Linked DNA regions of Homo sapiens: regions 2, 3 and 4 are each linked to region 1. The links come from fine-mapping of genetic effects on gene expression. A gene starts in region 1. Each other region holds a variant in brackets. All regions are shown on one strand. Distances are from middle to middle.

Region 1 (8,108 bases):
AATTAAAACCATTAAACACAATACAACTGGACAGTACTTTCAATCTGAACAGGAATTTCAAACAAATCTTTGTCCTTTGAGCATGGAATAAGCAAACAAAATATTAAATTAGTTCATTCTTAAGACCTGATTTCTTCCTAATTTAGAATCTATAGGAGCAAAAATCAAGCTGTATACATCATCTAAAAAGCCCAATATATCATACACCATTACGATGACATTAGTAGTGAAGACCAATGCTGCATTTTTTTTTCCTGATAAACTACTCATGAATATGTGGTACATTTACAGGAATCACTAAATTGCTTGTCAATTTTTCCAAATAAAAGCTCTGCATATACATTTGGAATTCACGCTATTAAATGTATTTTTTCAAGGATGGGAACTGAAAAATCCCCGGCAAGATTAAGACTTAACACTACAAGGCCAAAGGGTTGTCAGTCTATAAAACTATGAAAAAAATAAAGTGAGAGATTCCCAAATTCTAGAACACTACAAATAGAAAACTGGAGGAAGCCAAAAAGTTAAATTTAGAACAAATAAATGGAAGTACTATGTTACATTTGCTGAGAGTAAGTTTAAGAACTTCAAAAAGATACCAACAACTGAAAATGTTACTATGAAAACAGGTAAAGATAAAATGGTTAAGTACAGAGTAACTGAAAGTGTCTCACATTTGTCCTTTTTTTTTTTTTTTTTTACATCTTTTACAATTAGGAAGAATCATAATAAGCTATCATTTTTATTAATCAAGTATTGGCAATTTTGTAAGGTTCAACCCCATATACTCCATTGACCCATTACAGGTTATCCACGGAAAACGGAACATTTTGGAGGTTTTTAATCTCTTGAGATTGATGTAAGGGCAACTGTCCCTTGGTGAAGATAACTTGGTGACACAATAATCTTCACTGAATGGATCAAGGGTATGTCATTTTTCAGGTTCTTGTTTGTTACCATAATGAGAGGCCAGGAGAACTGGGTTCTAGCTTTACCCTTCCGACGGTAAATATCTGGAGATTGAAACATTTTAAGTCACTTTGGTTCTTAACTTCTTTTCAATCAAAAAACAAAACAAAACCTACCCCTCTGTCAGTAAATATCTGGAGATTGAAACATTTTAAGTCACTTTGGTTCTTAACTTTTTTTCAATCAAAAAACAAAACAGAACAAAACCTAAGTTGGGCTAGATTATCTCTAGGATGGCTTTCAGTTCTAAAAGGATATGATTTAAAATAAACAGACATTTACGCATCTGTATTTTTAAAAAAATAGTTCCTATGGGAAACTTAAATTTAAAAGTATGCCAAGATAAAGGCTTCAGTTTTAAATGGCCTGGTTGTTTTTTTACTGTTTTATTATTGTTTAATACCTCCTGATTCATACTTGCACCAGTAAATCTTATAGGTCAACCACTTGTGCATATCGCAATTCTAGATACTCAGAATATTAAACAAACTTGAGCTACTAAAGGCTAACATACACATTAGCTGGTGAATTGGGAGGGTTCTACATAAAATCAAATCTAAAGTTTACTAATATTGTTGACCAGAGTCTAAAATAGCAAACAAGTTGAGAGAGGCTTAGGTAACTATCAGGACTCAAAGTTGACTAAATATCATATACACAACTATTTCCTGGAATTGACAGAAAAACATCTATTTCAACTTGAAATGTGACTCAATCATCTACTTCTGTGGGTTAACTTACAACTAAATCTACAATTTTTAGCAATTACAGTGGCATTTGATATGACATTTATAATAGTGCTATAAATCATTTTCTCATATTCATTGACACAGACATGTCTTAGAACTATTCTGATACAATGCTTAGAATACTGAAAGAGCAGTTTTCAAGAATATAAAGTAGTACCCACAGTTTTAACAAATGTACTGAATTGAAGTTTAAGCAAGTTAAGACAGAAAATAGAACTACCATTATCTACAATACCCAGGTTACATTTTCAAATTATCACCAAGCTAGAGAATCAAAAAGATAAGTATTGTCAAAATATCTTGCAGGGAATTACCAAGTGAAACTAAGCCAATGCTAAAACATTAAGTAATGGTGGCTTTTCCCTTCACATATTAAAAAATATTCCTTAAAAGGATGTCATCTTTCTGTAGTAAAATTCAACAGAAACAATATGCTTGTGAGCACATGATACAAAGCATACACCTGCAGTCAACGTTTAAGTTAAAGGGTTCATACAGACTGAAATGGGTCAATATTATTGTGAAGAAATTACTGGTACTGCCAATACTATGTTAATTTTTAAAAACCGTCCAAAAGTCTTTCACTTACGTGTAATATTATTGTCAATTATACTCTACACAAGCCAGTGTTACTAGTGTTTGGCCACATCTACAACCAGTTTCTTAAATTAAAAAAAAAAAAATCAGATCGGTAACAATTTCACACAAGTTTTCTACATTCCACAAAAGGGTATTTTGTTCAAGTTTCAGGAGTCTTTCAGCCACCAGAAGTGTTAGTAGCGCTTTCTGGAATGGAGTACCAGAAAGCAGGCTGGCTACAACTGTTAATTGTCCAGTTGAAGTAAAGAGAAACATCTCCATAATTACCGAAAATGCTTGTAAGATTTAATTCTCCAATATGACCACACCAAGTTTGCTGACATCCATGTTCACCACAACATGTTTATGCATACACTCTTCCCTGATTATGGTTGTAATCGAGAGACTAATAAGGCCTGTATCTGAACAGAACCATGTTCAAATTAAATGACTGTAAAGTGTTTGAGGATGCGGGCGGGTAATTAAAGACGGTTAAACACGATTATAATCTAATGTAAACAAGACACAAGACCCCCACCCCAGTGAAACACGCCACCATACAGGCTTGCTGCAGTTACACTAGTATCACGTTAACCCGAATCATGAAGTCTTACCTTCAAAACAATTTCATTAAATAACTAGGAATGTGTACAGCACTTGACATCATATAACGTACTATGATACGCAGCAGGAGATATCCACTGCCACATTCTGGGCCCTCACTCCCTGCCCCGCACAGTCTCGATCACTGCTGGGTTCACCCTCTTTTTATTCTATCCACTTACCAAGAAGCACAGCTGTGGCCAGTTGTGGATAAAATATCTATAGGTATAAATGGAGTAGGGTTCGGACAGATCTTTGGTGATCAGTCTCATGATATCGGGCATTTGTAGCTCGGATTCATATCGGACATATCGTATCGTCCGATCCTCCCCAGGCTCAACCTCCCTGCCCGAAGGGCTTCTTAAGCTGCAGTCGGCGGTCAGGGACGAAGACAGCAGCCGCACCTGCTCGTCTTCCTCCTCCTCCTCCTGCTCGGTGCCCTCGGCCAGTCCATTGCGGGCCGCCGCGGGATCGCTCGCCGCCGCTGCCTCCACCGGGCTGGGGACCGCAGTTCTTGCATTACTAGAGAGGGAGTGAGGGGGCCTCTCGCCCGAGTGTACCCCGGCTCCTTTTGTTGCAGTCGCTCTGGGGCCTCCGTCAGGGGTGGCTGTGGTCGCGGCCACCTCTGCTACGCTCAGGACCTTGCTCTTGAGGGAGGCGGCCGCCCGGAGGTGCCGCAGTTCGGGGCTAATCAATCCGTTGAGCTGCTGCTGCTCCTGCGGCGGCTGAGGGCAGCGGAGGCACGGATGCCCCTTGGCCGCCACCGTCGCCGACTCTCCGCCCGCCGGGCTCCTGCTGCCGCCGCCTTCGTGCTCTTCGTCGTCCTCCTCGTCCTCGCTGCAGCAGGCGAGGGCGGCCCCCGCCGGGAAGGGACAGCGGGGCTCGACCGCCGCCGGGGCCGGAGGTGCTGGTGGTGGGAGGAGGCTGCTAGGCCCAGGCGGTACCTCCGCCATCCTAGAAGCGACACAGACCGAGAGGGGAGGCCATGAAACCCGGCCGAGGAGCGCGGAGAACAGGGGGCGACGGATGGGGGGCGGCCGAGGTGGGGGGAACAAAGGCAGAAACCGTCCCTCACGGAGCTGCCCCCCAATTCCCCGCCACCCCCCCGCTCTTCAGCGCCGCCCAGCTGCTCAGCCGGCCACCGTCCCCGTCCGCCCGGGCCCACCCGCCAGCCCTGTCACTCGCGGCCCCTCCTCACGGCTCACCCCGCACGGGTCCCCGCCGCCGCTGCCGCCACTCCTCTTCCTCCGCCACCGCCGCCGCCTCCTTCGCAGCCGCGGCAGCCTCCACAGCCGCCAAGGTTCTCACTCAGCCGCCGTCGCCGTAAAGCGCCTCAGCTGTTAGGCCGGGTAAAGTTTCCTGGGCCTGGCTTTACGACACTTCCCTGCCTGCCGGCTGCCCGGGCCAAGAGAGAGGGGCGTGGAGGGAGGTGACCTGTGGAGGGGCGGGGACAAAGGTGTCTCCTGCGGGCTGCGGGGAAGGCCGCGTGCTAGTGGGTGGGGCTGTGGGGCCGGGAAGTTGCAGAGGGCTTTGGAGTCACAGGCTCCCAAACCCTCTTCCTCGGTTTGGGGGCGCCTCAACCTGCGGTGCTTGCCACGCGGGGCCGGGGAGGGATGGACCGGGCAGGCGCTCCCTGCTTAAAGTCTACCGCGCACTCCGAGCTGTAGCGAATCTCGCCAATTCGGGGCCTGTGGAACAAGCCGTTTACAAGTCACCTAAAAATGCCCTTTTAAAGCTGCACAGCGTTTAATGTTTGCCCTGACCAGGGGCAAGGAGGATGGGGGAGGAGCGATTAAAAATGGAGCAAATCAGAGAAGCCGACCGAAAAAGAAAGGAAGATTTGAGCTGTGAAAATATGGGGATGGCTGTCGAAACGTGGTGGTTTGCAGTGTGAATTAAGTTCAGCTGGCCCTTGCCACTTTGAGGCAAGGGAGTCAGCCCTCTTCCTCTCCCTCCTTACTCTGCTCCTCGCACCCAGTAAAATTGGAGGCAAAAGTGACTGACAGGTGTTGGGCAATTGCTAGCACACCTGGGGAAGGGTTAGAGAGAGGTGGTGAAAGAGAGTGACCAGGGCTAAGAAGCACACTCCTAAACTTGTGACACAAATAGGTTAGGAAGCACTGGTAAACAGGTGGCCTGATCCTCCCAGGGGATCTGCCTATCGAGTGCAAAGGGGATAGAACTTGAGCTTGTGGCTGGGCGCCTTCTGCTCTAGTCCACAATTGACTCCCGGCAGGTCTGAGCTGAGACAGGTAGTGTAACTCACCCGCTCACTGAACAAATTCGGTTTTGTTAAAAACCTGATTTATAGAGCTGGTCTGGTGTGCCGCAGATGGACGTTTTCAATATATAATTCTATGACGGAACACGTTTGCAACTTTTTGCCGTAATCTAAACTCTATGTATAAAGTATTTATTATGCTCGCAGATTCTGTGCCTCTGAAATCCAGACAGAGCACAACTGGGATGGCTTTTCTCTACTCCATTATGCGTAGAGCTTCAGTTGGAAGACTCTAAGGCTGAGGAGTAGAATTATTTGAAAACTTCACTTTCACCGCTGATGGTTGATGCAGGATAAAGGCTGGAGGCCTCAGTTCTAGTCCATGTAGACCTCTCCCGGTGGTCTTTTAGCATTGATTGGTTTGGGCTTTGTCACAGCCTGGTGGCTGGGTTCCACGGCAAGTATCGTGCGAGAAAGTCAATCAGAAGCATATTACCCATTATAACCTAGCCTTAGAAGTCATGTAGTCTCTAGCCAGGTGCGGTGCCTCACGCCTGTAATCCTGGCATTTTGGGAGGCCCAGGCGGGAGGATCTCTTGAGGCCAGGAGTTCGAGACCAGCCTGGCCAACACAGTGAAACCTCATCTCTGCCGAAAAATACAAAAATTAGCCGGGCGTGGTAGCTCATGCCTGTAGTCCCAGCTACTCAGGAGGCTGAGGAGAATCACTTGAACCCGGGAGGCGGAGGTTGCAGTAAGCCGAGATTGCGCCACTGCACTCCAGCCTGGGCAACACAGGGAGACTCCCTCTCATCAAAAAGAAACAAAAAACAAGTTATGTAGTGTCAGTTCTGCTGCATTGTATCTAGGCAGACACAAAATTATATCCAGTTTTGACAGGAGGGGAAATAGACTCTACTCTTGGTGGAGAGAGGCAAGGTTCTCAAAGAGCATATGGGACCAGAAATATTGCTGTGGCCATTTTCAGAATGTATAACTTGCTACAGATACATTGAAAACCTCCTAAACACCTTGATGTGTGGGGGATATAAATGAGATGTATAAGTACAGCGTGATCCCTTTTCTGTCTTTTAAAAAGCACAAAACAAAACCATGTTTCCAAATGTGCATACATTGTTTAAAGATACATGTTTTTCAAAGTTTCTAAGTGTAACCTGGGTAGTCAGCCAATGAAACAATGATCTGTTCAAATCATGGTGGAAAAACTGGCCCAAGAGGCACCAGATAATTCCATAAGAGATGTTTAAGGGTGAATTTTACTTAGAAAAATACCTCTCAGTAATTTACTTTTAAATGTAAGCCCTTCCTAAAAAGCATGTACCTTCACTGTAGTGAATGAATGGCAGCAGGCCTTCCTGTTCTTTCTGTGTTGCAACTTGGCATTGAGCTCTGTCACACTGAGGAGCTGACCAGATGTTGTCTCAAAGTGGTTTTCAGAAAGTCAAGAGTTGTAAGGACCTTCTTGAGGCCAGGGAGTAAATGTTAGTCACTTTGTATTCACATATCAAACACATAAAAGGGAAATTGTTAAGCTTTTTGACTGAAGTACACCAGTCTCTCATTCAGTAACCTAGAATGCTTATAATGACAAAGTAAATTCTGACCTCCTCAATAACTAGTGGGGTAATTCTAATGTCTCAGCCCCAGTGATTTTTCTTTATATCCCAGTATTAAAATTACAATGTTGGCCTTCTAAATCAGATGACATCTCTAAAAAAAATTGCCTTTATAACTTATGAAATCTTTTCTATTTGATTCATGTTTACTTGATAGGATGATAGCACTATTTTAGGCATAGAAATAGGATTAGTTCACTCTAATGCTTTAGACATATTTACTATTATGAGACTCTGAAAAAACAACTACCTCCATGAGCAATACTTCATAGGAAAGAATGGGCTCAGAGCAAGGTGAGTGTAGCAGTGATACTCTTCTGTGTGGTTAGTTGATATTTTCATTGTTTTGTAATATCCTATGAAGCAACAGCCATTTTTTCTTTTCTTTTTTTTTCTTTTTTTTTTTTTTTTACTATTGTTGTTCTCTTTTGAGGAAGAAGAGAACATGCCTTAATTTTTTAGAAGAAAAAAAAGCTTCTCATTAAATCAATTAAAATAACCAATAGCAATTTTAAAACAACATCCTGAAGCAATTTATTGAAATCAGCTTGGAAGGAGAAAAATTTCTATTTAATTCTTTCTAACAGTGAGGCATTTTTCTCTTATTGGCTAGGTTTAGAGAGAAAACCTAGCTGTGTACCTACCTGAAAGGTAACTGTGGGAATGAATAATGGAAAGATGCTTTAAGTTCCCTTGACACAGCAGGATGACATTGTTATGTGCCATAGGCACACATACTAAATAATTTAAATATTTGTGTAGTTTTATTTTACATGTCATGTGGTTCTTAATCCCACTAATCCTATCTATTATACATAAAGCCCTGAAAATGAATGTCCTTAACTTTGTTTCATCTTGAATGAAAGAAAGAACATACATCAAATTTGAGAGCTGAAGAACTTAACCAAAGGATGAATATTAGTATATTGTTGTATTACCTGTAATCTTAGAACACTCTGAGATGCCCAGGTAAAAGACTAACAATTTGATTCTTCCCTTCGAATTTGGGGAATGACAGTCTGTTCTTTAAACTTCTTTCCCCTTGCCAGTAGTGGATGGCAGTACCAATTGTAGGTAGGCATCAATTTTGTTTGTAGAACTGAGGCCTCAGAGGACTATGAAGAACCAGAGAGGGTTGTGGTCAAATGGTCCCCATTTCCATTATTTTCAACCTCACACTAACTCTTCATGACCTGCCTGAAGACATGGTCAGGGTGATTCTCACAGATACACCTGGGCTGGTGAGACATGTTGGAGAGAATCATATATTCCTACATATTAGAGCCAAAAAATTTTTGGTCTCTAATTTAGCTATGCCTTCAGCTGTCTAGAATTGTTTTAACCTGTCTCC
Region 2 (8,108 bases), 93 kb before region 1:
AATGCAGAGCTCTCTCAATCCCTAAGTTCTTCTCTGTGCATTTGCTATACTCTTTCTCCCCAAAGATCAGTTTTTTCTGTTCTTCAGGTACACAATGAAATATGGCCACCCTGAGCTTGTATCTTACAGTTCCAGTCAAATGGACAGATTGGCCTTTTTGACTCCAATTCCAGATTCCTAGGAGAAAGGATATCGGCTCAGCTTTGCTCATGATTTCAGCTCTGGTCCAATGAGCTATGGCCAGAGGATATGCTCATGCAGTAGATATGTGGGCAGAGTCATCTCCCCTGTAGACTCTGAAGTCAGCTCCCAGAGAGGAGGGAAATCACTAGAAACTTGGCAGACACTCCCAAAGAGATCAGCTATAATTATCTTCACAAATGAAGCTCAGCACATTTTCCAGCACAAATGAGTTTTTGAGAGAATAATACATGCTGGGTCCTCATGACATGCTAATTAATAGCCTAATTTCTGCCAAAGAAAATTCTAAAATTATTTTAAATTATTAAACCAAATCTAATTGTATGCTAAATTATTTGAGATATATTTTTGGCACCTTCTACTTCCTAAACATCTACTCCTCAAATAAAGAGCAAGTCATGAACTAGCGTTATCCAGCCTGGAGCTGAGAGGCTTTGAGAGCCTCTGCCAGGGAACTCCGAATCAAATGGGCCTTTTTATTGAGGAGTTGATTAGCACTGTCCCCTCTGGCCTGATCACCTTCTTATCCAACCATTTCAGGTCTAGCTTAAATTGGAGGTGTTTCCCCCACACATATAGTGTGTCCTCAGATGATCTCCTTGGATAACTCCCTCATCTTCAAATATTTGTTCAAATCTCACTGTCCCTATAAGACCCACCCTGACCAATCAATTGACATTGCAACCCCCATATCAGCACTCTTGAGTCCCCTGGCCCTTCACCAGATTCCCAAATCTCCTAGCAGACGCTTCAACTGATTATGCTGATCATTTGTTTTGTTTGAGAAGTCAAATAATCCAGAAGTCTTTAGACAAATGATACTTACATTATAAAGTGAAAATAAGGTGTCATTCTAACCGATTCTCTGGTAGTTCCTTCCATTGTGTTCTCTTTGAAGATGATGAAGTGAGGCATCTCACTTCCTGGGCAGGGAAAAGGAACATGCACACAAACCCAGAATTCTGAGGCAATTTCATCTGACTGGTTAATTTAGCAGAAGCCAATTTCACCAACAATTTTCTGCAGTGCTTCTCAAATCAAGTGGCAAAGGATTTAATGAAGAGATCCCAGGTGCAATGTTAGTTGCTGCCATCTAGTGGCTTTTGTGAAGGAATAGTGTGATTCCTTGGGCTCTTTTCAAACGCCAGGGAGAAACTCAACCTGGAGAGAGTTCTTGAAGATATCTACCACTGAACCCTTATTAGAATTGTGTGTTTAAATAGAAAGGCTGAAAATGGAAGAAAGAGATCTGTGAAACTACATATTTATACTATCAAAGCAAAAACTTGGTCCATGAATTTATGGATAGATTAGTTTAATAAAACTAAAAATTCTTGGCTTCTTCAGACTCAATTTTTCAAAAATATTCCACATAAAAAAATCCTCCGTAGTCTATTATGATGTCGTTCCTTTATTCACTTAAGGCAATGTGGAAGTCAATGGCCCCCAACCTAGAAAGAAATCATCAGAATCCCTGGGAGAGTTTTGAAAATATTTATTTCCAGGACATACCCCAGACCTGTTGAATCTCAATCTCTAGTGAAGGGGCCAAGAATTTCTTTTTTTTTTTTTAATCCCGGAAAAGTCTGATGATAAGCCATTTTGGATAACATATAGTGCAGAAAAGAGCTTTAGATTTGGAGCTGGACACACTTGCGCTTAAATCCTGGAGATGCCACTTTCTAGCTGTTCAACCTTGGACAAGTCAGCAACCTGTCTGAAATGGGGAATCTTCGTAATTATCCACGGAGTTCACATGAAGATTGAATGAGATTACATATTTATAACCCTGGGCATGGCGTGCAGTAATGGCTGCGAAGGCATATAGGCCTAATGAGAAAGAACCAAATCCTGAACACTCTCCATGTCCAGAGGATGGCACAAATATTTGTTCTCCCCAGCTTCCAGAAATCCCCCTTCAGTCATTCCTGATTCTTCCTCCCATAGGTGCCTTGAGGGGCTCCTCTCCCTTGGCCTCCCCTCCCCTTCTTCTCCTTCCCCTTTTCTTGCAGGGTTCTGACTTGATCAGAAGCTGCCTCTTGTGCCAGCAGGTCCCATTTGCTTTGCATCTTCATGTCCTGCAGAGTTAAGACTCAGGGAACAGACAAACTCCTCTTACTAGGATTGATCTCCTCTCATTACATCTTTGCTAAGTTATGTTAAAAGACCCACTTCCTCCTCTGAGGTGAGAATGGAACAGAGAACCACTTCCCACCACAAATGCAAATTACTATCTGGTATATATCTAACACAAAGATGAGCTCTTCCCCCTTGTTGTCTCTTCTTTGTCTCCACATCCTTTGCCCTTCTTCTCTTCCTTACCAGGTCTACTTTGGGCTGCTCCAGCAGAAAGGACTGCTGGGTGCTCTCCAGTCCAGGACCAGGGACCTAGAAGTGGTTGTACAGGGAAGTAGTGGGGAACCCAGGTCATGCTCCCCATTACAAGTGCTGAATATCCAGTATCTATCTTCCGTGGTTCCACTCTCTCTTTTTATTCTGGTCACCTTGAAAGCCAAGTTAACTTCCAAATCTACCCCCTTAATAATGCAACAAATCACACTAAAACTAAACCATTTTAAAGTAAATTAGCATGTGCCTTCAGCGTTGGACTAAGGTGGGAGTAGGGCTCACACTCTTTGCAGCAGCATGATGTCCTCATGGTTTTCCTCCTACTTCTTGAGCCATCACTTCCCAGTCTCCTTGGCCAGCTTATTCCTGGGCACCAGCCTCACCACTGGAACTCCTGGAGTCTGCAGTTGTTGGCTCTTCTCTTCTCACTCCTGACCTTGCCCATGACCTGGGCTTCACTCATGCTCTACTCTGGGATTATTCCCCAAAATCTCCAGCACAGACCTCTCCTCCCAAGCTCCCTGTATAACTCAACATCTACACTGGCCTGTCTTAAAGGTGTCTCAAACTCAATCTATTGCACACCAAATTTGTATTTTCCTTCTACATCCTACCCAAACTAGGTCTTCCTCTGGATTGCCCATCACAGGGTATGATAACACCCTCCATTCATTGTACTGTGGACTCTACTCCCCTTTACTAACCATAATGAATCTTGTTTGGTCAGCTTTAAACATTTGTAGAGCTCATCAATTTCCCTCTCTCAACCCCAGCCCATCATCTTTGTCCTCTTAGCTGATCTCTCCACATCCATAATTATTCCTTCCTAGTTTCCACACTGCAGCCAGCATGACCCTTTTTAAAAAGCAAATGTACTCGTGTCACTCCTTTGCTTAACGCATGTCAGTGTCTTCTCATTGCTCTTAAGGGACCACTATCTTAATGGCCTGTCAGGCCCTGCATGACCTGGCCCCTGCCTCACCTCTCAGCTCATTCCAAGCTGCTGTTTCACTTACTGTAAACTGCAGCCAACCAATTTCTTTCCATTCCTTCAAGAGATCATGATCACTCCCCACCTCAGGGCTATGGCACAACTTAGTCCCTTAAAAACTCCCAATCTTCCAATTTCTACTAAAAAGGTACTACCTTAAGGCACTTTCTTGAACTGCCTCCCTAGCCCTTTCCCTCCTGCCTTAGTTTGCTAGAAGACTGAGATCAAGGTGTCCATAGGGTTGGTTCCCTGTGAGGCCTGTGAGGAAGATCTGTTCCACGACTCTCTCCTAGCTTTAGGTAGTTTTCTGGCACTCTTGGGTGCTGTTCATTGGCTTGAAGAACCATCGCCCCAACCTCTCTCTTCATCTTCACATCGTGTCCTGCCTGTGTGTGTGTCTGTGTCCAGATTTCCCCTTTTTAATGAGGACGTTATCATATTGAATTAGGGGCTTGCCCTACTCCAGCATGACTTCATCTTAACTAATTATATCTGCAATGACCCTATTTCCAAATAAGTTCCGATTCTGAGGTATGGAGGGCTAGGGCTTCAACATATGAATTTTGTGGGGAGGCACAATTCAACCCCTAACACACCCTGTTTTTCAGGTGGAG[T/A]CCTTCAGTTATGTAGTGTCATAGTTCTGCCCTGCAGATTTTTTCTGCCCTGCAGGTTTTTTCTGCCCTGCAGTGTAATTATCACTTGAATAATCACACAAGCAAATGTACATCTATTATGCATAGATTGTAAGCTCCATGAGGGGCCACATCCACTTTTGGTGACCGTTGCATCCCCATGTCTGGCATGTAGCAGTCATTAAGTAGTCACTGAAGGAACACATAAACTCTGTGGCCCTCCACGTTCCCCATTGCATGTCAATGTCAAGAGACCAGACTTTGTCTCCCAAACCTGCTTGATCACTTCTCAGTGATCAAGATCCGGCTGGAGGCAGACCGGTTGACATGAATTGCTGCCCAGTCTTAGTGACCCCCTGAAATGCCAACATGATCTCCCCTATCAAGCCAAGCCCCTGCTAGAAAAGGACATCTCTAAAATGTGTTAGCACACTGCAGTTTCATTTTAAATGTGTCTCATAATCACCAGTGATTACTACTAAGGAGCTTCTCTAGAGATCTTAAAAACAGATTGCTTCCCTAAGGGCTGGAATAGTTCAGCTGGGTACCTAAGGGATGTGTGAAATAAAATAAATTCCTAGCGCCTCTTTTATCTCTAATATTCTAAGATCCTGGTGGTTTGATAACTTTGGACATGGTCCCTTAATGCAGACAGAAGAGTATCTTAGTCTCCTAACTCTCTGACCAACACTTAGATCAATAAGGCACTGTCGACAGTGCACTAGAATAATAAAGAACCCAGATAGGTTGAAAAGCCCTTTGTACCAATATAACTGTAATGCTGTTAGAATCACCTTTCCTGTATGCTCTCAGAAATAAGTGCCGCTTTTGCAAAGTGTTAAGATAATTTAATGTCTGGCTTTTCTGTTTCATCATCTCATGGCATGAGGAATGCTGACTGCTCTAAACGTTGAACTTCTAGAAGCTTGAACCCATTGACTTGCCACGAGTAATTACTTCAGGAAGACTCCTGAGCCAGCGAGAAGCCAGGACAATGCACAAAGCAAAGGTGAGCTGCAGCAGTAACCTGACAGGGAGGTGAACTGGGGGTGGGCGACACAGGATTGGGGCACTGGAGCACACTGGTCCTTTCATGCACTCTCTGCATGGAGGAGTTCAAAGACAAATCAAACTGTTAAGTCATTCAGAGTGAGAACTTTTCAAAGCTATTTATTCTCTTCTGTGCATGCCTCCAACTGGCAGTGGCTATTACCTCTTGCATGAGCTCTGCACCCTTTTCTGCTTTGTGTTGAAAACCAGGGCAATGTAGATGAGAAAAGACTTTTACTTAGAAATTGGTGATTCTGAAGTTTTCAAATCTGTGAAAAATTCAGCATAAGTCCTCCCTTTCATTCCTCCCCTCAGTTTAAAACTTTTTATTCTCAGTTTGCAGGAGAAATCTTATCTACAAGTTATTCCTGACTTATTTGACACAACCTCACCAAAAATTAATCCTGGGAAATGTCTTCTGTGTATCTTTTCCCTGCTATGCACTTATAATGTTCTGTTGACTAGAACTCCCCTCACATAGAAATGAAAGCTTAGAGGTAGAAGCAGATTTTCAACACTTTCCACTCCTAATTTGTTTTGGAGCTTGCTAGGTGCTGCTGTGTGGCTGGCTGACTTGACAAAGATGTCCAGGTGCTGTCACATCCTCAAGCCCACGTTTGTGGTGCTGACAGCATCTGTGGAGATGGCCCCTCCCTGAGGTTCACATCAGCTGACAGTCACTATCCACACAGCAACACAAAAGGTATTGTCAAACACATCATCTTTCCTGGCAACAGCAAATGACAAATGAAGGTATATTGACCTCTGGCTGCCCTCAATAACCGTCTGCACTGTCCCACTGGAGTTTATGATGCACTGGCGGGGAGATGTTCAGAGTCACAAATAATCAACTTCAAATCCTCCCTAAACTGCAATATTCTCCAAGGCTTATGCTGGCATATGGAAATGCACTCTATAGAAATAGGTTCCATTTCACCATTCAGCAGCTTCCCTCTCATTTCATAGCCAGCCAATTACTCAATGGTAAAAGAGGCAGGGAGAAAAAGAAAGGTTTCCTCAAACCAGAACACAATTCTGGAGAGGTGGTAATAAGCATCTGTTTACAAAGGAAGTGATATCTTGCCAAAAATGAGATGTGGAAAGATATTCCCATTTAAGGTTTACAAAACTCTATAGCAACCTAAAAAACTACATATATACACATCAAAGAGCCACTTCATTCATTGATAGTGACACAAAGGACTTGTCAGGGACACACGATAGTCCACTTTTGTCATCACAAGATATCTCTACAGGTTATGACTGATTAAGATCTGACTCTGTTTCAAAAAGGATCTAAACTTGTGAATTGCAGAGTCAGTAACAAATTACCCCATACTAACAAGTGTGTTGTCTTTCATAGCAGGTACTAGAAAAGAAAATGCAAACTCCAATGTATACTTCTGAGAACAGACAATATTTGCATAAGATGCAAGTGCTGGAAATGATCCGTAAAAGACAAGAGGTAAATACGAGAAGAGTGTCATATTTACCAAATTTTCATCACATAATCACTGCCCTGCCACATGAATATATCAAGCATAGATAGCCAGTCTTTACTTAGCATTTTAAATTTCGTCATTGAGGTTGAAGGTTCAACTACTAAAGCTGAGAAGAATCAGGAAGATTCCTTCTGCTGATAACCTTGTTGAGTCTTTTCTAAGTTTGTATCTGTGTATCTGTGTCGCAAGTCTCCATTTTTAAAAACAGTTTGCTCCTATGACATTCTGGACATAGGAAAATGGGGCTAGATCATTTTTCTTGGTTTAGTGAAAGGAGGAGGGGGTGAGTTGTTCTTTATTCTGATACCTAGGCCTCTCTCTATAATTCTTGCCATAGAATTATCTAACAAGAAAGACCTCTTGTAAAAAAAACAACCAACCAACCAAACAAACAAAAAAACCCTTTACCAGTAATGCCTGTAACTGTCATGTTCCAAATTCCTCCCTCTAGGAAATGAGCCTTTAGTTACTGCTCTCTGGAACTCCAATCATATCAGCTAGCTGACAGAAACACACTTTTGTAAAGGTCCTCATCTTAATTGAGCCATACCTTTTTGAGACTGGGTGCACTCACCTTTCTCTTAACAAGCCTGTCAATAAATAAAGTTCCCATACCTTCTAATAGGAAAAAGAAAACCATGTTCTGGTTAGAGGACTGCAGATGTCTACAGATAAGCACACAACTTGCAAAGTGGCTGATCTGTTGATCTAGTCTGGTGAAAGTAGCTTGGGAAGAACATTGATCATTTATAGTTGATGATTTTCAGGCCCAAATGGAGTTAAAGAAAAGTCTTCATGGAGAGGCAAGAATTAATAAGCAAAGTCCAAGGGACCATAAAGCCAAGAAAACCCTTCAAAGCACCCCAAGGAATGATGACCATGACCTTCTAACCATGTTGCCTGATGAAATCTTGAACAGAGGTCCCGGTGAGTCATGTACAATTTTTTAGTAAAACATTTCAAGTGTTTTTAAAACTTCATCAAATAAACTACCAAGGGAGGGACATGATGAGAAGACAGCAAACAGCTTTGAGCTCTTGCTGAGATTTTTACTTCCCAGAATATAGTGGGCATGTTGTCATGTAATTTTGGATGGCTGGGAGGAAAAGACAGAAGCTTAAGCTTGGTAATTAAATGTCTCTTTCTTTGTATGGGTTTAATATGCTTTGCATGCTTCATTGCAAGTCTTGCCTCATCCCTAGAAGCAGAAAAGGCAAAATAGCCTCATCTTGTGGTTAGAGAGAATGAAGCATATGAAGATATATTGCCGGCAGTCACATGGCAAATTTGCTTCAGCAGAGTTGGTACCATATGCAGACACTTATCTTCCTGACTGCACCCTTTTCTGTGGAGGTCAACTCTCTTTGGCACATTCAGAATTTC
Region 3 (8,108 bases), 77 kb before region 1:
CAGATGAGCAGGGGAAAGATGAGAAGAAGCCACGAGCACTGGTGAGGACCAGGACAGAGAGAATCCCACTTTTCGATGAGTTTTTTGATCAAGAATAAGAATACTATTCATTAACCTAGAAACTGAGTGCTTTGAAAGCTTGTTTTACTCTCAAAATCTTCCAAACTGATATATGAATTACTTTGAGGACAGCAAATCACTTTGGTAAAAAGAAATGATATCTTTAGAGTCTTATGATTAACAAGTCCGTCACATGTGCTGTTAACTATTGCTGCATAACTAAATGCCTCAAAACACAGGGGCTAACCAAGAGCCATTTTATTGTCTCACTTTCCTGTGGGTTGCTGAGTTCAGCTAGGTGGTTCTTCTGCTGTTCCCTTTTGAAATCTTTCATGTCATTGAAATTGGACTACATTTGGACTACTAAGACTGGAGTCATCCAGAGGCCCCATTAGGACACTGACACAGGGGGACCTTGCCCCCTATCCATGTAGCCTCAGAGCATCTGCATATGATCTCTTCAGCAGGACACTGCAGAGATTTCTCTCATATGAGCCCAGGGCTCCCAAAAGCAATTGTCTCAAGAGGAGGAAACAGAAGTTGCCAGTCTTCTTAAAAGCTAGTCATAGAACTGACTTTGCATCACTTCCACCATGTTCTGTTGGTTAAAGTCATAGACCAGCTTGGAGTTAATGCAGAAGAGGACTACACAAGGGCATGAGTGCCAAAGTGTGGTCCTTTGGGGTTCATCTTTGACATTTGCCACCTCACCATGTTTTTAAAAAGAAAATTAGATTACATAAAACAAATAGATGGGCTGGATGTGGTGGCTCACACCTGTAATCCCAGCACTTTGGGAGGCCGAGGTGGGCAGATCACTTGAGGTCAGGAGTTCAAGACCAGCCTGGCCAACATGGTGAGACACCGTCTCTACTAAAATACAAAAATTAGCCAGACATGGTGGCATTCGTCTGTAATCCCAGCTACTTGATGCGAAGGCTGAGGCAAAAGAATTGCTTGAACCCAGGAGATAGAGGTTGCAATGAGCCAAGATCACTCCACTGCACTCCAGCCTGGGCGACAGAATGAGACTCTGTCTCAAAATTAAAAAACAAAAAACCAAAAACAAATAGATGAAAAAGTAGACTGGAGACAAATAAAAGTGAGTTTCTAAAGGAAATTCACAGTAATGCTGCATTAAACACTAAGCTCACTTAGGTCACTTTCTAGTGAGCTAACCGTAACAGAGAGCCTACAGGATACACGTGAGATAATGTCACGTGTAGAAGATCGTTGTGAATTAAAGTTCAAAATTAAGACTTCTTAGATTATGATGTAGATTTTAGAGCTCCTTAAAACATAAAGCGAATCTTATAAATGTTCAATTCTAAAGTTATTCCACTTGGAAAAATTAGCTTTTGGGACAATTTTTAAGAACTTTTGTGTAAAATGCAGCTCCATGTTTAGCATAATCTAAAAATAATTTCAAGCAATCCAGAATCTTCCAAGAATTTATTAAAGCTTTAAAACAAAGCAAAACAAAAAGACCCTTTTGTGCCTTATATGGGAAGACTCCAAAAACAGAAAAAAATAGAGGAAAACACCACTTCAATTTGACATTCAATGCATTCACATCAGAAACTAAGAAGATAACAAGCCTGAGATGTCAGGTGATAAAAATTCATGTTTCTTCCAAGGACAGAAGGCTATTAGATTGTCCCAGGCCATATCTATTCCCAGTTCTTTGTGAGTAGTCTTCTTACTTTTTCTGTGGTAGGTAAGAAGCATATTTCCACCAAAAGAAAGCATGCATTGTTTGACTAGCCAGCTTTCTAGAAAAAATGAGATCCTTGAGAGGATAAACAAATCCAACCTATTCATGGTGTCCTCACTTATTGTGGTCAATTTGGAAGGCTTAAAACACAAAAAATGGGATGGATAACTTTGAACACTAAAATTAGTGGAGCCAAAGGCACGTCTTCACCATTCTGTTATGTGACTTAAAATTCAATTTCACGAAACCCACTTCCACAAGCTTAATGAACTGTGAGCTACATGAGGGCATAAACCATGTCTTCTTTGTATGGTATTTCTGCTTCCTAGCAGGACAGCTGGCAAAGAGTTTATCATTAAATGTTTGCTGAATTAATGAATGTGTTGAGTTGACTAGTCAATTAGAGAAACACTTGTTTCTCTCCAGCTATGCAGTTGCTCACCCTCATTTCCATCATCTCCCAGGAGTCTTGGATAGACAAGGTTGATTATATAGTAAAGAAAATGACTTTTTCTTGCAAAAGCTGTTGCCGTTTATACATCTAAATGAATGGCCAAAATTAAGCATTGCCTTGGGATACAGGAACTATGTGTATATGCCAATAAGGATGCCATAGCTCAAAATACTTTTCAAAACTATCAGAGTGTGTTAGCTTCCAAAGAAAATCCATCCTAATGCCTTCTCTGTTTATTAGCCAGCTCCATGTAGAACTCCTTATAATGCAGTTATGATGAATTCAAGGATTTTAAAGGAGTAATAATTATAGTAATAATTGCCAACATGCATTTCCTGTTTATTGTGGGCCAGTACTCTTCAAATATTTTACCTATTTAATCCTCATAATGATTTTGTAGGTCAGTATTAATATCATCCCCATCTTAAAGATGAGGAAATTGGGACACAGAAAGGTTAAGTAAGTTGCCAGAGTCACCTAGCAGAACTTCCCTTTGGAGTAGACTATTGTTTACCAAAAGTGACCTGATAGAAGCCAAGGACTCTTCCCTCCTTTCCTCAATTTTACTTCCAACTCACCAACTACATTACACAGCACTCTGTATTTCTTTTGCATTACATGGTGTGGTTCCTTTTGGGAGGAGTGGGGAAGAGGTAATAGTACACTAGAAAGGGTGAGAGCTTTGTGGAATTATCTTTTAGCAAGGAATAGCTTAACTGATAGCCGAACTGCAGGCAAAGGGAGGATAAAAGCACAGAAGAAAGGCAGATGAGAGAGTAAAGGAAACCTTAACTGTCTTCCCAATTTGGCCTAGGGAATCAGTCCCCAACCTTTCAGCACCAGGGACCAGTTTTGTGAAAGACAATTTTTCCACAGATGGGTGAGACAGGGGATGGTTTCAGGACGAAACTGTTCCACCTCAGATCATCAGGCATGAGATTCTCATAAGGAGCATGCAGCTTAGATCCCTTGCCTGTGTAGTTCACAATAGGGTTCACACTCCTATGAGAATCTAATGCCTCTGCTGACCTGACAGGAGGGGGAGCTCAGGCAGTAATGCTCCATTGCCCACCACTCACCTCTTGTGTACGGCCCAGTTCCTAACAGGCCATGGACCAGACCAGCACCTGTCCACAGCCCAGGGGTTGGAGACCCCTGGCCTGGGGGCAGCATAGGTGAGCATCCCCACTGAAAAGCCCCATCCAGGGTGGATCAGTTGCACACTGTGACAAAGACTCAAGGGTAGCAGGTAGCTCAGTTGCACAATGTGACAAGGACTCAAGGGTAGCAGTTCTCGATGCTGGCGACAGGTTAGAATCACCTGTCAATGATCAAAAACTAATAACAACCAAGATTTCTGGGCCCCACCTTTTGATTTAATTGGGTTGGAGTAGAGCTCTGGCATTGGGTGGTTGAGTTTTTTTTTTTTAAGCTTCCAGGTGAATCTATCACACAGCTAAGTTTGAAAATTACAGCTTTAGCAATAAGAACATTCTATTTTACCAGATTATATCACCTTCTAGCTATAAAAGAAAGAACTTCTGAGATAGTTTTTTAAAGTTAAGGACATTAGGCCTGGAGCTTCACAAAACAGTAAGAGAAATGTTCATTTTGTAAGTAATTTTCTGAGAACACCAATCCTACAGTTAATCTCGAATTTGTTCAGGGCAATGTACGGCCATCATAAAACCAGCTGTTGCTGATAAAAGCTATAAAATTCAGCCTAGAGGTAAAGCTGTCAATTTTCTTCAGCTGAAAATCTCTCCAGCTTTGGAAAGAAAATAGGCTTGTCTAGGACTAAATTCATACTTC[C/T]TCTTGTGAAAATAATATTTTCCTTCTTGCTCTGAATTTTTCATTAGAAAGAGAAATATCTTTTTTTGCTTGAATACTTTTGGAAATATATTTTTCTCAATTTTTTTTCAGGCAGAGTGTTGTTTTTCATCACGTACTTATTTTGATGATAATTCAGAGTTACTATACTGGGATTTAACTAAACGTAACTTTTGTAGGAGTCACCTATGAAATAGACTTGTGAACAAATGGATAATGTTTTCTGCTTACATAGAGCCTTTAAAAACAGAAAATAGAACCCCAGCTCTTTGTGCCCCTCCCTTTCTTACCACAGAAACATAATGGTCATCAAATTATAATTAACATCAACTATTTTCTGCCTTGAATAAACAATAAAAGCCTATTTCCACATATTACTGCAAAACCTCACCAATTTAGATTGCTACAGGGAAGGCTTCGGAGAAAGTATGCTAAAGGGTAGGTTATGGAAGGTCCGACCATTAAAAATCTGAATTACATCTCATTTTAAGAGAAATGCTATTTCATTCAAGTACAGAATACACAATAACACAATTGGAAACTAAGTCAATAGTTAAGGATTTTTTAAAGATATGTACTTTATAATAAGTCTGCAATTCATTCATTTGTGTATCATTTAATCATGCATTCAATGAGTGGGTTTGAGTATTACTACATGCCAAGTACTGTTGCAGATGCTGAGAATATAGCCATCAACAAGACAAAGTCCCTGGACCCATGGGTTACATTCCAGTGGGGGAGATCACGAGCAGATAGTCAAGTACAAGATAATACAACTTAATGTAATGTTAAGCATGATTAAGAAAAATAAATCAGATAACAGGGTAGGCAGGGATGGAGTGAACTGCTTGAGGCAGGATGCTCAGGGAGAGACTCTGAGGAAAAACCATGAATGAAGGGAAGGTGTGAACCATGAGAAGATCCATGGAACAGGCTTTACAAACACCAGAAGAGCAGGTGCAAAGGTCCTGAGACAAGAATGAGCTTATAAGGTTCAAGAGCCAACAAGAAGGCCAGAATGACAGAGCGACCAAAGGAGAGACAAACAGGGATGATGTCAGAAAGCTGGTCAGGGCCCAGATGTGAGAAGCCCAGAGGAGCATGGTATGACAATGGGTTTGAAGTGTAATACAGTTTTAGAGTCAGAAAGGAATACTTGTGGTCTAGACTGATATCTCCAATATAATCATGAACAAAGGCAAACAGACCCACTAAAGTCACATGGCCATAGCTAGCTGACCTGGGGCTGACCCTGGACCCACTGAGCAATCAGAGAGGGCCTTGGTTTCTGCTGGTGGCAGGAAGCTCAGCGAGGAAGCTCAGGAGCAATGGGTGGCAGTGCTCTGCCCTGTAGGCCAGAGATGCAGAGAATGCTGACCTGTAGCAAAGAACCAGAGAGACCCACTGAGGCCTGACAGTACATCTGTTCCTCATTCCCAGTCCTTCCCAAGGCCCTGCTGCCCCCTGCCCTTCATTCTGAGACTGTATCCCTATCATAAATTGTGCTTTCTGCTTGGGCCAGCTCCAACCGATTTCTGCTTCTTAAAATCAAACAACTTCAACTAATAGATATCTTAAGCAGCAGCCACCTCCTTGCCTCATGACACAACAGCAGAGGCTGTGGTGTGCTGGAATCGGCATGAGTGGCCAGCACCAGCTCTCAAAAGGAACCATGAGGATCTCTTCCCAATCTGTGTTCAGTGATGCCATGCCGGCCATGGTGGGAACATTTACACCAGAAAAATTAGTGAATGTTGCAGATCAGGGCTTTTTTCAGAAAGCTGATATTAAGCATTTACTGACACAACTGGCTAGAAGTAAGACCCACCAGGCTCTGGAGCCAGAAGTCACAGCCCAGCTTGGCCAATCCCTCTCTTAGGTAATTATTTCACCTGTCTGGCCAGCATCCTCACTGTAAAATGGGGAAAAGGATAATGCCAACCTAACAGTGTGTTGTGGCAATGAAATAAGATAATACACATAAAGTGCTTAGAACAATGCCTGACACATAATAACTGCTCAATACACACTAGTTACCAAACAATGTTATTACCATTGAAATTAGGAATAAAATAAGATTTTGTGTGTGAGAGTGGTTCTAGAAGTCTAATCAGTTCAACAAGACAGAACAAAAGCCAGAAGTACACAACTACGGAACCATGAAAATAAATGCATCACAATTAGCAGGGGAAGTAATTATATGGCTGGACTACCCAAGGGAATCAACTGAAACATTTTTTGATTTAATAATGGAATTAAATGGGTGTTGGATAAAAGAACTATATTTTAAAATCAACAGCTTTTGCAAACCATTTCTCGGAATTTATCCAACAGAACACTGTGCAAAGACAAATGCTCAAGGGTAAATAGTGAGTTCACCGATCACAAGGGAGATGTCTCAGGGTACACTATCTTGGAATATCCTTTCTCTGTAACTCCAAGTCTCAAGCTCCCCTTTCCATTACTATTGAAAACTGTGCTCTTACCAATCCAGGGTACTTTTGTCACTCCTGGCTTGAAGTGCACCCTCAGGATTCTCTCCCACTCTCCCTTTTTCCTCCCCAGCCAGGGTCCATGGCTGGGGGAAGACACACAGGCCTTGATTATGGTGCTATCCTGGGGGCATGTGGGGAATAGCTCATTGGTGCCATCCTTTGTCCAAACTGGCCTCGACTGAACGATACCCATCTTGATGATCTTGGGCATCGGCCTTTCTCTCCTGAGCATCTACCCCAACCTCCCTGGCTGGTGTCACTTCCCACCATACTCTCAGCACTAGCCTTGTGTAATGATTGCTCAGGAAGAAGCCCAGTGGTTTTCTCCTGCTGAGATGGTCACCACCTCAGTCTAGAGGGTGTGACTCATCCTTAAATAATCAACTATATCTTCTATACAGTCCCTAAGGTAGGCTGTCCATGCCTCATGCTGTGCTAAGAAATCCCCATGGCTCTCAATTCTCAGCTCCCCTCCCCCTACTCTGCTTTGGAAGCCTTGGAAACTTCTTAAATATTCTCCATAACCTATGGGGCAGGGAGATGAGGGGCCTATCTCAGGCACTCTCTACCAAAACATGTCTTGCTGCCATTATTACTGTGCTGTAGTCCACAGATGTTGCCCTCCTGAAGTAGCAAACAGGTGGAGGCAACGTACCATGAAGCTCAGGAAGCTTCAGCTTCAAGGCCCCTCGTGCACACAGTCCTCTGCCCTGGGAGGAGCACTAGCAAATCATTTACATGAGTTTTCATTACAGTTCTCCAGGAGCAGACAAGGATGAAATGCAAGCAGTTTATGTTGGAGCTGATGCCACGAAATACCAGTAGAGGAGTAAAGTGAGACAGGGAAAGCTGCCAATCAAGGGGCATAATCAAGGAAGTTACTATTCTGGGTACCAGGCTTAATCCTGCTGGGGAATTCTGTGCCTCAAAGTTATCTCATCTATAGAAGAAGTATGCTGGGGTCTGATACACCACCTTTAGTCAGTCATTGGTTGATGGCTGCCAGAGCATGAGGGAAGAAGAATTAATTATCTGGTACTTCTTAAATGCCATGTATCCTCAGGTCTATCTGTGGAGAGAAGTTCTCAGGCTCACAGATACAGATGCTGGTAAAAGCCAAGCCAAATTAAGGCCTGTGGGGATACGATGGGGGCGCCAAGAGCTTACTACAACTTGGTTACATGTTTTTGTAAAATGTGCAAAAGTGGCCAGCGCGGTGGCTCATGCCTGTAATCCCAGCACTTTGGGAGGCCAAGGTAGGTGGATCATGAGGTCAGGAGATGGAGACCATCCCAGCTAACACGGGGAAACCCTGTCTCTACTAAAAATACAAAAAAATTAGCCAGGCGTGGTGGTGGGCACCTGTAGTGCCAGCTACTCTGGAGGCTGAGGCAGGAGAATCGCGTGAACCCGGGAGGCGGAGCTTGCAGTGAGCTGGGATCACGCCACTGCACTCCAACCTGGGTGACAGAGCAAGACTCTGTCTCAAAAAAAAAAAAAAAAAAAAAAAAAAAAAAAATCAGTGGTTGCCAGGGATTAGGGGAGAGAAAGAGTT
Region 4 (8,108 bases), 61 kb after region 1:
TTGCCAGGTGGAGGGTCTCCTCCCTTCTCAGATGGGGCGGCTGGGCAGAGACGCTCCTCACCTCCCAGACGGGGTCGCAACCGGGCAGAGGCGCTCCTCACATCCCAGACGGGGCGGCGGGGCAAAGGCACTCCCCACATCTCAGACGATGGGCGGCCGGGCAGAGACGCTCCTCACTTCCTAGACAGGGTGGCGGCCGGGCAGAGGCTGCACTCTGGGCACTTTGGGAGGCCAAGGCAGGCGGCTGGGAGGTGGAGGTTGTAGCGAGCCGAGATCACGCCACTGCACTCCAGCCTGGGCACCATTGAGCACTGAGTGAACCAGACACCGTCTGCAATCCCGGCACCTCCGGAGGCCGAGGCTGGCGGATCACTCGCGGTTAGGAGCTGGAGGCCAGCCCGGCCAACACAGCGAAACCCCGTCTCCAACAAAAAAATACGAAAACCAGTCAGGCGTGGCGGCGCGCGCCTGCAATCGCAGGCACTCGGCAGGCTGAGGCAGGAGAATCAGGCAGGGAGGTTGCAGTGAGCCGAGATGGCAGCAGTACAGTCCAGCTTCGGCTCGGCATCAGAGGGAGACCGTGGAAAGAGAGGGAGAGGGAGACCGTGGGGAGAGGGAGACCGTGAGGGAGAGGGAGAGGGAGAGGGTCATTGGTAAATTTCATCATGGTTAAGATCATGACATCCAGACCCACTCTGCCTGGGTTTCAAATCCCAGTTCTGCCATTTCTCAGCTGTGTGACTTGCACAAATTACCTAACCTCTCTGTGCCTCAATTCCTAATCTGCAAAATGAGGATGATAATAGAATTTATCTTGAAGGCTTATGGGGACTTTGTGAGCTTAGAGCAGTGCCTACTACGTGGTAGATGCTGTGATTTATGTTATAATTTCTAAACCCTGATAACTCCTGATTTAATCCTGCCTCCTGGAGCACCTCCTTCTCTGACTTTCCTGCCAACTCCAAGGATGACCTCATTTTATGCATCATCAAAGTCCCTGGAAGGTAAGGGCTGCGGTCAATACCCCACAGTGCTCAGTGGGTGTTTGGGAAGAAAGAGAAGAGTCATGGAGACTCAGGGCTGACTTGGAGCATAGAAGGATCCTCTAACCACCCCCACACCTTGCACACACACAGCCTCCTTTCCTGCCTTCTCTCGATGAAACTTTTTTACCAGAACAAACAGCTTCCCCATCCCCAGTAGTGGCAGCATCCCCTCCCCGACCCATGCTGCCATCAGCCTTTCCACCTTTGTCTGAGGAGATAAAGTTTGCGCTGCCTGAGACAACAGTGATGGGCTTCCCTGAGGCAGTTTCCAGGCAAGATAATGTTGATTCTCATCAGGAGCCACCCCCAACACCCCTGTTTGCTTCTAGACATATAACTAGACTAAAGTCCTGGCAGGCCCCTAGAGGTGAGGTTGAGAGTGTGACCTATGGGGAGGTGCACTACACTCAAAAAGAACTGCTTGAGTTTTCTAATTTATATAAGCAGAAATCTGAAGAACAGGCATGGGAATGGATATTAAGGGTGTGGGATAATGGTGGAAGGAACATAGAGTTGGATCAGGCTGAATTTATTGATTTGGGCCCACTAAGTAGGGACTCTGCATTTAATGTTGCAGCTCAAGGAGTTCAAAAAAGTTCTAATAATTTATTTGCTTTGTTAGCTGAAATATGGATTAAAAGATGGCCCACTGTGAATGAGCTGGAAATGCCTGATCTCCCTTGGTTTAATGTAGAGGAAGGGATCCAAAGGCTTAGGGAGATTGGGATGGTGGAGTGGATTAGCCACTTTAGACCTACTTATCCCAGCTGAGAGGGTCCAGAAGATACACCCTTGACCAATGCCTTGCAAAACAGATTTGTGAGGGCAGCACCTGCATCTTTGAAGAGCCCTGTAATTGCTCTTCTCTGTATGTCAGATCTAACAGTGGAAACCACAGTCACTCAACTACAAAATTTAAATACAATGGGAATAATTGGATCCTGAGGTGGGAGGGGCCAAGTGGTGGCACTCAACTGTCAAAGGCAAGGTGGGCATAGCTACTGCCATAATGGACAGCAGAGGCAAAGTGGCAATCAGAATAGTCTGACTTGTATAGAGCTCTGGCACTGGTTAATTAATCACTGTGTTCCTAGAAGTGAAATTAATAGGAAACCTACTGCATTCCTACTTAATTTATACAAGCAGAAGACTTCTAGCTCAAATGGACAAAAGACTAATTTGAATTATAAAAACAGAATCATGGCCCCTCAATCAATTTCCAGACTTGAGTGAGTTTACAAACCCAAAGCCACTTGAATGAAGGGGAGGCCAGGTCCCCTTGAGGAAGGACCTCACTACATTACTGACAATTTATGCAGTAAATCTTTCTCCCATCCTTCCCCAAGGAGACCTCTGGGCTTTTAACAGAGTAACTGTGCACTGGGGAAAGGGAAATTATCAGATATTTTGGGGACTACTGGACACTGGCTCTGAGCTGACGTTGATTCCAGGGGACCCAAAATGTCATTGTGGTCCTCCAGTTAAAGTAGAGGCATATGGAGGTCAGGTAATTAATGGAGTTTTAGCTCAGGTTTGACTTACAGTGGGTCCAGTGGGTCCTGGGACTCATCCTGTGGTCATTTCTCCAGTGCCAGAATGCATAATTGGCATAGACATACCTAGTAGCTGGCAGAACCCCCACATTGGCTCCCTGACTGATAGGTTGAGGGCTATTTTGGTGGGAAAGGCCAAATGGAAGGCATTAGAGCTGCCTCTGCCTAGAAAAATAGTAAATAAAAACAATATCACATCCCTGGAAGGATTGCAGAGGCTAGTGCCACCATCAAGGACTTGAAAGATGCAGGGGTGGTGATTTTCACCACATCCCTGTTCAGCTCTCCCATTTGGCCTGTACAGAAGACAGATGGATCTTGGAGAACGACAGTGGGTTATCTTAGGCTTAACCAAGTGGTGACTCCAATTGCAGCTGCTGTACCAGATGTGGTTCCATTGCTTGAGCAAATTAACACATCTCCTGGTACCGGGTATGCAGCCATTGACTTAGCAAGTGTGTTTTTCTCCATTCCTGTCTATAAGGCCCACCAGAAGCAATTTTCCTTCAGCTGGGAAGGCCAGAAATATACCTTTACTGTCCTACCTCAGGAGTATATGAACTCTCTGGCTTCACGTCATAATCTTATTTGGGGAGAACTTGATCTCTTTTCACTTATGTGAGATATCACACGGGTCCACTACATTGATGACATTTTGCTGACTGGATCTAGTGATCAAGAAGTAGCAAGCACGCTGAACTTATTGGTGAGACATTTGCATGCCAGAGGGTGGGAAATAAATCCAACTAAAATTCAGGTACTTACTAGTTCAGTAAAATTTCTAGGGGTCCAGTGGTGTGGGGCCTGTCGAGATATTCCTTCTAAGGTAAAGGATAAGTTGTTGCATTTGGCCCCTCCTACCACCAAGAAAGAGACACAACACCTTGTGGGCCTATTTGGATTTTGGAGGCAAAACATTTCTCATTTGGGTATGTTACTCTGGCCCATTTATTGAGTGACCTGAAAGGCTGCCAGTTTGAGTGGGATCCAGAACAGGAGAAGGCT[C/G]TGCAACAGGTCCAGGCTGCTGTGCAAGCTGCTCTGCCACTTAAGCTATATGACTCAGCAGATCCAATGGTGTTTGAGATGTCAGTGGCAGATAGGGATGCTGTTTAGAGCCTGTGGCAAGCCCCCATAGGTAAATCACAGGCCTCTAGGATTTTGGAGCAAAGTTGTGCCATCTTCTGCAGATAACCACTCTCCTTTTGAGGACAGCTTTTGGCCTGTTATTGAGCTTTGGTGGAAACTGAACATTTGACTATAAGTCATCAAGTCACCATGTGACCTGAACTGTCTGTCATGAATTGGGTGCTTTCTGACCCATCTAGCCATAAAGTGGTTCATGCACAGCAGCATTCCATCATCCAATGGAAGTGGTATATATGTGATTGGGCTCGAGCAGGTCCTGAAGGCACAAGTAAGTTACATGAGGAAGTGGCTCAAATCCCCATGGTCTCCACTCCTGCCACCCTGCCTTCTCTTCCCCAGCCTACACCGATGGCCTCATGGGGAGTTCCCTATGATCAGTTGGCAGAGGAAGAGAAGACCAGGGCCTGATTCACAGATGGCTCTGCATGATATGCAAGCATCACCCAAAAGTGGACAGCGCAACACTACAACCCCTTTCTAGGACATCCCTGAAGGAAAGCGGTGTAGGAAAATATTCCCAGTGGGCAGAAATTCGAGAGTGCACCTGGTTGTGCACTTTGCATGGAAGGAGAAATGGCCAGATGTGTGATTATATACTGATTCATGGACTGTAGCCAATGATTTGGCTGGATGGTCAGACACTTGGAAGAAGCATGATTGGAAAATTGGTGACAAAGAAATTTGGGGAAGAGTTATGTGGATGGACCACAATGAGTTGTCAAAAACTGTGAAGACATTTGTATCCCATGTGAGTGCTCACCAATGGGTGACCTCAGCAGAGAAGGATCTTAATAATCAAATGGATAGGGTGACCTGTTCTGTGGACACCTCTCAGCCCCTTTCCCTAGCCACCCCTGTCATCACCTAATGTGCCCATGAACAAAGTGACCATGGTGGCGGGGAGAGAGGTTACACATGGGCTCAGCAACATGGACTCCCACTCACCAAGGCTGACCTGGTTATGGCCACTGCTGAGTGCCCAATTTGCCAGCAGCAGAGACTAACACTGAGCCCTCAATATGGCACCATTCCTCAGGGTGATCAGCCAGCTACCTGGTGGCAGGTTGATTATATTGGACATCTTCCATCATGGAAAGGGCAGAGGTTTGTCCTCACTGGAATAGATGCTTACTGCTGATATGGGTTTGCCTATCCTGCATGCAATTCTTCTGCCAAGACTACCATCCATGGACACACAGAATGCCTTATCCACCGTCATGGTATTGCATACAGCATTGCCTCTGACTGAGGCACTCACTTTACAGCTAAAGAAATGCAGCAGTGGGTTCATGCTTATGGAATTCACTGGTCTTACCCTGTTCCCTATCATCCTGAAGCAGCTGGATTGATAGAACAGTGGAATGGCCTTTTGAAGTCACAATTACAATTACAAGTCACAAAGTACAATGTACTTTGCAGGGTTGGGGCAAAATTCTCCAGAAGGCCCCATATGCTCTGAATCAGCATCCAATATGTGATATTGTTTCTCCCATAGCCAGGATTCACAGGTCCAGTAATCAAGGGGTGGAAGTGGAAGTGGCACCACTCACCATCACCCCTAGTGATCTACTAGCAAAATTTTTGCTTCCTTTTCCTGCGACATTACGTTCTGTGGCCTAGAGGTCTTAGTTCCAGAGGGAGAAATGCTGCCACCAGGAGACACAACAACGATTCCATTAAACTGGAAGTTAAGATTGCCACCTGGACACTTTGGGCTTCTCCTACCTTTAAGCCAACAGGCTAAGAAGGGAATTACAGTGTTGGCTGGGGTGATTGACCTGGATTATCAAGGTGAAATCAGTCTACCACTCCACAATGGAGGTAAGGAAAAATGTGCATGGAATACAGGAGATCCATTAGGGCGTCTCTTAGTATTACCATGCCCTATGATTAAGGTCAATGGGAAACTACAACAGCCCAATCCAGGCAGGACTACAAATGATCCAGACCCTTCAGGAATGAAGGTTTGGGTCACTCCACCAGGAAAAAACCATGACCTGCTGAGGTGCTTGCTGAAGGCAAAGGGAATACAGAATGGGTAGTAGAAGGTAGTCATCAATACCAGCTATGACCATGTGTCTGGCTGCAGAAACAGGACTGTAATTGTCATGAATATTTCCTCCTTCTTTTGTTAAAAACATGTTTGTGCATGTATACACTTGTACTAAGAAAATATCTTCACTTTATTTCCTTTCTCCTTTACCATGTGACATAAGATTTATTGACTTCACATCAGCATTTAAGTATTGTTAACTTTATGTAATAGTATTTGGATTGGGGATGGGTGCATTTCTGGTTGTATGAAGGATAGTTGTATTGTTAAGTGTAATTATGACCTTATTATTGTCTTTATTCGAAGATTATGTATGATCTCAGGAGATGTGTATGGGTTCAAGTTAACAAGGGGTGGACTTGTGATGGTTATAATGAGTGTCAACTTGATTGGATTGAAGGATACAAAGTATTGATCCTGGGTGTGTCTATGAGGGTGTTGCCAAAGGAGATTAATATCTGAGTCAGTGGGCTGGGAAAGGCAGACCCACCCTTAATCTTCATGGGCAGAATCTAATCAGCTGCCAGTGAGGCTACACTATAAGCAGGCAGAAAAGTGTGAAAAGACTGGCCTAGCCTCCCAGCCTACATCTTTCTCCCGTGCTGGATGCTTCCTGCTCTTGAACATCGGACTCCAAGTTCTTCAGTTTTGGAACTAGGACTGGCTCTCCTTGCTCCTCAGCCTGCAGATGGCCTATTGTGGGACCTTGTGAGGGTGTGAGTTAATACTTAATAAACTCCCCTTTATGTATAAATCTATTCCATTGGTTCTGTCCCTCTAAAGAATCCTGACTAATTCATTGGGTTTGACATTAGTTGATTGTTTATTCTCTTGAGAATTGATCCAATTTTCAAGGTTATTTACATATCAAGTAATTTTGGATTGTATCCTGAACATTTTAAATATTATGTTGTGAGTCTCTGAGTCCTGCTAAAATTCTCTGGAGAATGTTCATTTTGTTTGTTTCAGCAGGCAAAAACCCTCATAGGTTGAGATTACAAATTCTCTCTTTGAGCAGTAGTTCCAATACTAGTTCAGTTCTCAAAGCCTTTACTATGCTTGTGTATGTGTGTGTGTGTGTGTATGTGTGAGTGTGTGTGTATTCCCCCATGGACAGCTTGGAGGTAAGGCTAGGACTTGTGTCAGTTCATTCACAGAATTAGGTTCATTCTCAAAATCTCTCCTCTCTGAGATTTCCTCCACACTGTCTAACTTCCAGTGATCTCTTTTCCTGGTTCCTCTGGCAGGAGAGATGGGGTTCGTTAAGAGTTTTAACCTCTGTGCTAATGAAACTCCCAGTTCCATACAACTGGGCCCACTCTCAGAGGGGGAGTGAGAGAGAAGTGGAGAGAAAAATAATGGAGACTCCTCTACAACCTTCACCACATGCATGCCATGACACGGAGATGCATGATTGGCCTCAGGTCAGGTCAGGGAGAGGAAAAAGGGGAAGGTGAAAAACAGGGACTTCCCCCGCACTCTTCAGTTTGCAGTGGTTTTTATTGCCAGTCTTCTGGCCCGACGGTTTTTGTCGTCTGCATCTGCCGAGCAGTTTTGTGATGTGACCCACCCTCCAGTAAAAGCAAAAAAAAAAAAAAAAGCCCCAAATCAAAAATTGCCCACCCCCAAAGAAACAAAGATCACCATTACTAACACCATTGCAGTTTTTCTTCAGTTTTTGTTTTATTTTGTTAGAAAAGGGGGTCTCCCTTTGTCACCCTGGCTGGAATGCCATGGTGCTGTCATGGCTTACTGAAGTCTTGACCTCCTGGGCTCAAGCCATCCTCCCGTCTTAGCATCCCAAGTAGCTGGGACCATAAGTATGTACTACCAGGCCCAGCTAATTAAAAAAAAAAAAATTTTTTTTTTTTTTTGGTAGAGACAAGGTCTCTCTATGTTGCCCAGGCTGGTCTCAAACTCCTGGGCTCAAGCAATCCTCCCACTTCAGCCTTCCAATGTGTTGGCCTTATAGGTGTGAGCCACCTCGCGCAGCCATTCTTTGAGTTTTGAATTTCTTCCTCAAACTGCTTTGTTATACTTCTCAGAGTTCCCAGGCAGTTGCTTCTTGAATTCTGTGGTCTTTATCTATATTCAGTGGGAGAGACGAAGTTAAACATGTAGTGTGATTACTTACATGTAAAAATATGTGTAGTTATATGTAATACTTTTTCTAAAGACTAGAAAGTCAAAATTATCATCATGATTATTTTGGACTGCTGTCATTTTTTCTCCCATTTTCTATTTTCTAAACATTTTATAACACACCTTCCTCAAACCTTCGTGTTTAATCCTGCTTCTTCCAAATCTTTG

Which allele goes with the higher level. Positions count from the first base shown, and alleles are read on the strand shown. Sizes are in standard deviations (SD) of each study's normalised expression. Not every link is listed here.
In carriers of allele T in region 2, the expression in unexposed skin of the gene that starts at base 4,225 in region 1 tends to be lower than with A alone (small effect, 0.18 SD a copy in GTEx).
In carriers of allele C in region 3, the expression in whole blood of the gene that starts at base 4,225 in region 1 tends to be lower than with T alone (moderate effect, 0.46 SD a copy in GTEx).

What was found. PIP is the estimated chance that this variant, and not a neighbour inherited with it, causes the effect. A credible set is the group of variants that fine-mapping cannot tell apart.
Region 2: its variant is the best candidate, but not a certain one, in a credible set for the expression of NAA30 in unexposed skin (GTEx, PIP 0.85).
Region 3: its variant is the best candidate, but not a certain one, in a credible set for the expression of NAA30 in whole blood (GTEx, PIP 0.68).
Region 4: its variant is the best candidate, but not a certain one, in a credible set for the expression of NAA30 in sun-exposed skin (GTEx, PIP 0.64).

What each region holds. Positions count from the first base shown.
Region 1 is chr14:57,386,703-57,394,810 of GRCh38, reverse strand. It overlaps NAA30 (N-alpha-acetyltransferase 30, NatC catalytic subunit), which reads right to left and starts at 4,225. Exons shown (of 5, transcript NM_001011713.3): 1 at 4,106-4,225; 2 at 3,083-3,854. The coding sequence starts at 3,853. RefSeq lists silencers at 3,698-3,847, 3,978-4,117 and an enhancer at 3,246-4,241.
Region 2 is chr14:57,480,139-57,488,246 of GRCh38, reverse strand. It overlaps CCDC198 (coiled-coil domain containing 198), which reads left to right. Exons shown (of 6, transcript NM_018168.4): 3 at 5,096-5,182; 4 at 6,587-6,688; 5 at 7,493-7,652. Among named protein-coding and RNA genes, the nearest start is that of CCDC198, 9.7 kb to the left of the region's middle. The variant T/A (reference allele first, on the strand shown) is at 4,156.
Region 3 is chr14:57,463,345-57,471,452 of GRCh38, reverse strand. It overlaps CCDC198 (coiled-coil domain containing 198), which reads left to right. Exons shown (of 6, transcript NM_018168.4): 6 at 1-2,153. The coding sequence ends at 98. Among named protein-coding and RNA genes, the nearest start is that of CCDC198, 26 kb to the left of the region's middle. The variant C/T (reference allele first, on the strand shown) is at 4,041.
Region 4 is chr14:57,325,593-57,333,700 of GRCh38, reverse strand. No RefSeq gene overlaps it. Among named protein-coding and RNA genes, the nearest start is that of AP5M1, 61 kb to the right of the region's middle. The variant C/G (reference allele first, on the strand shown) is at 3,605.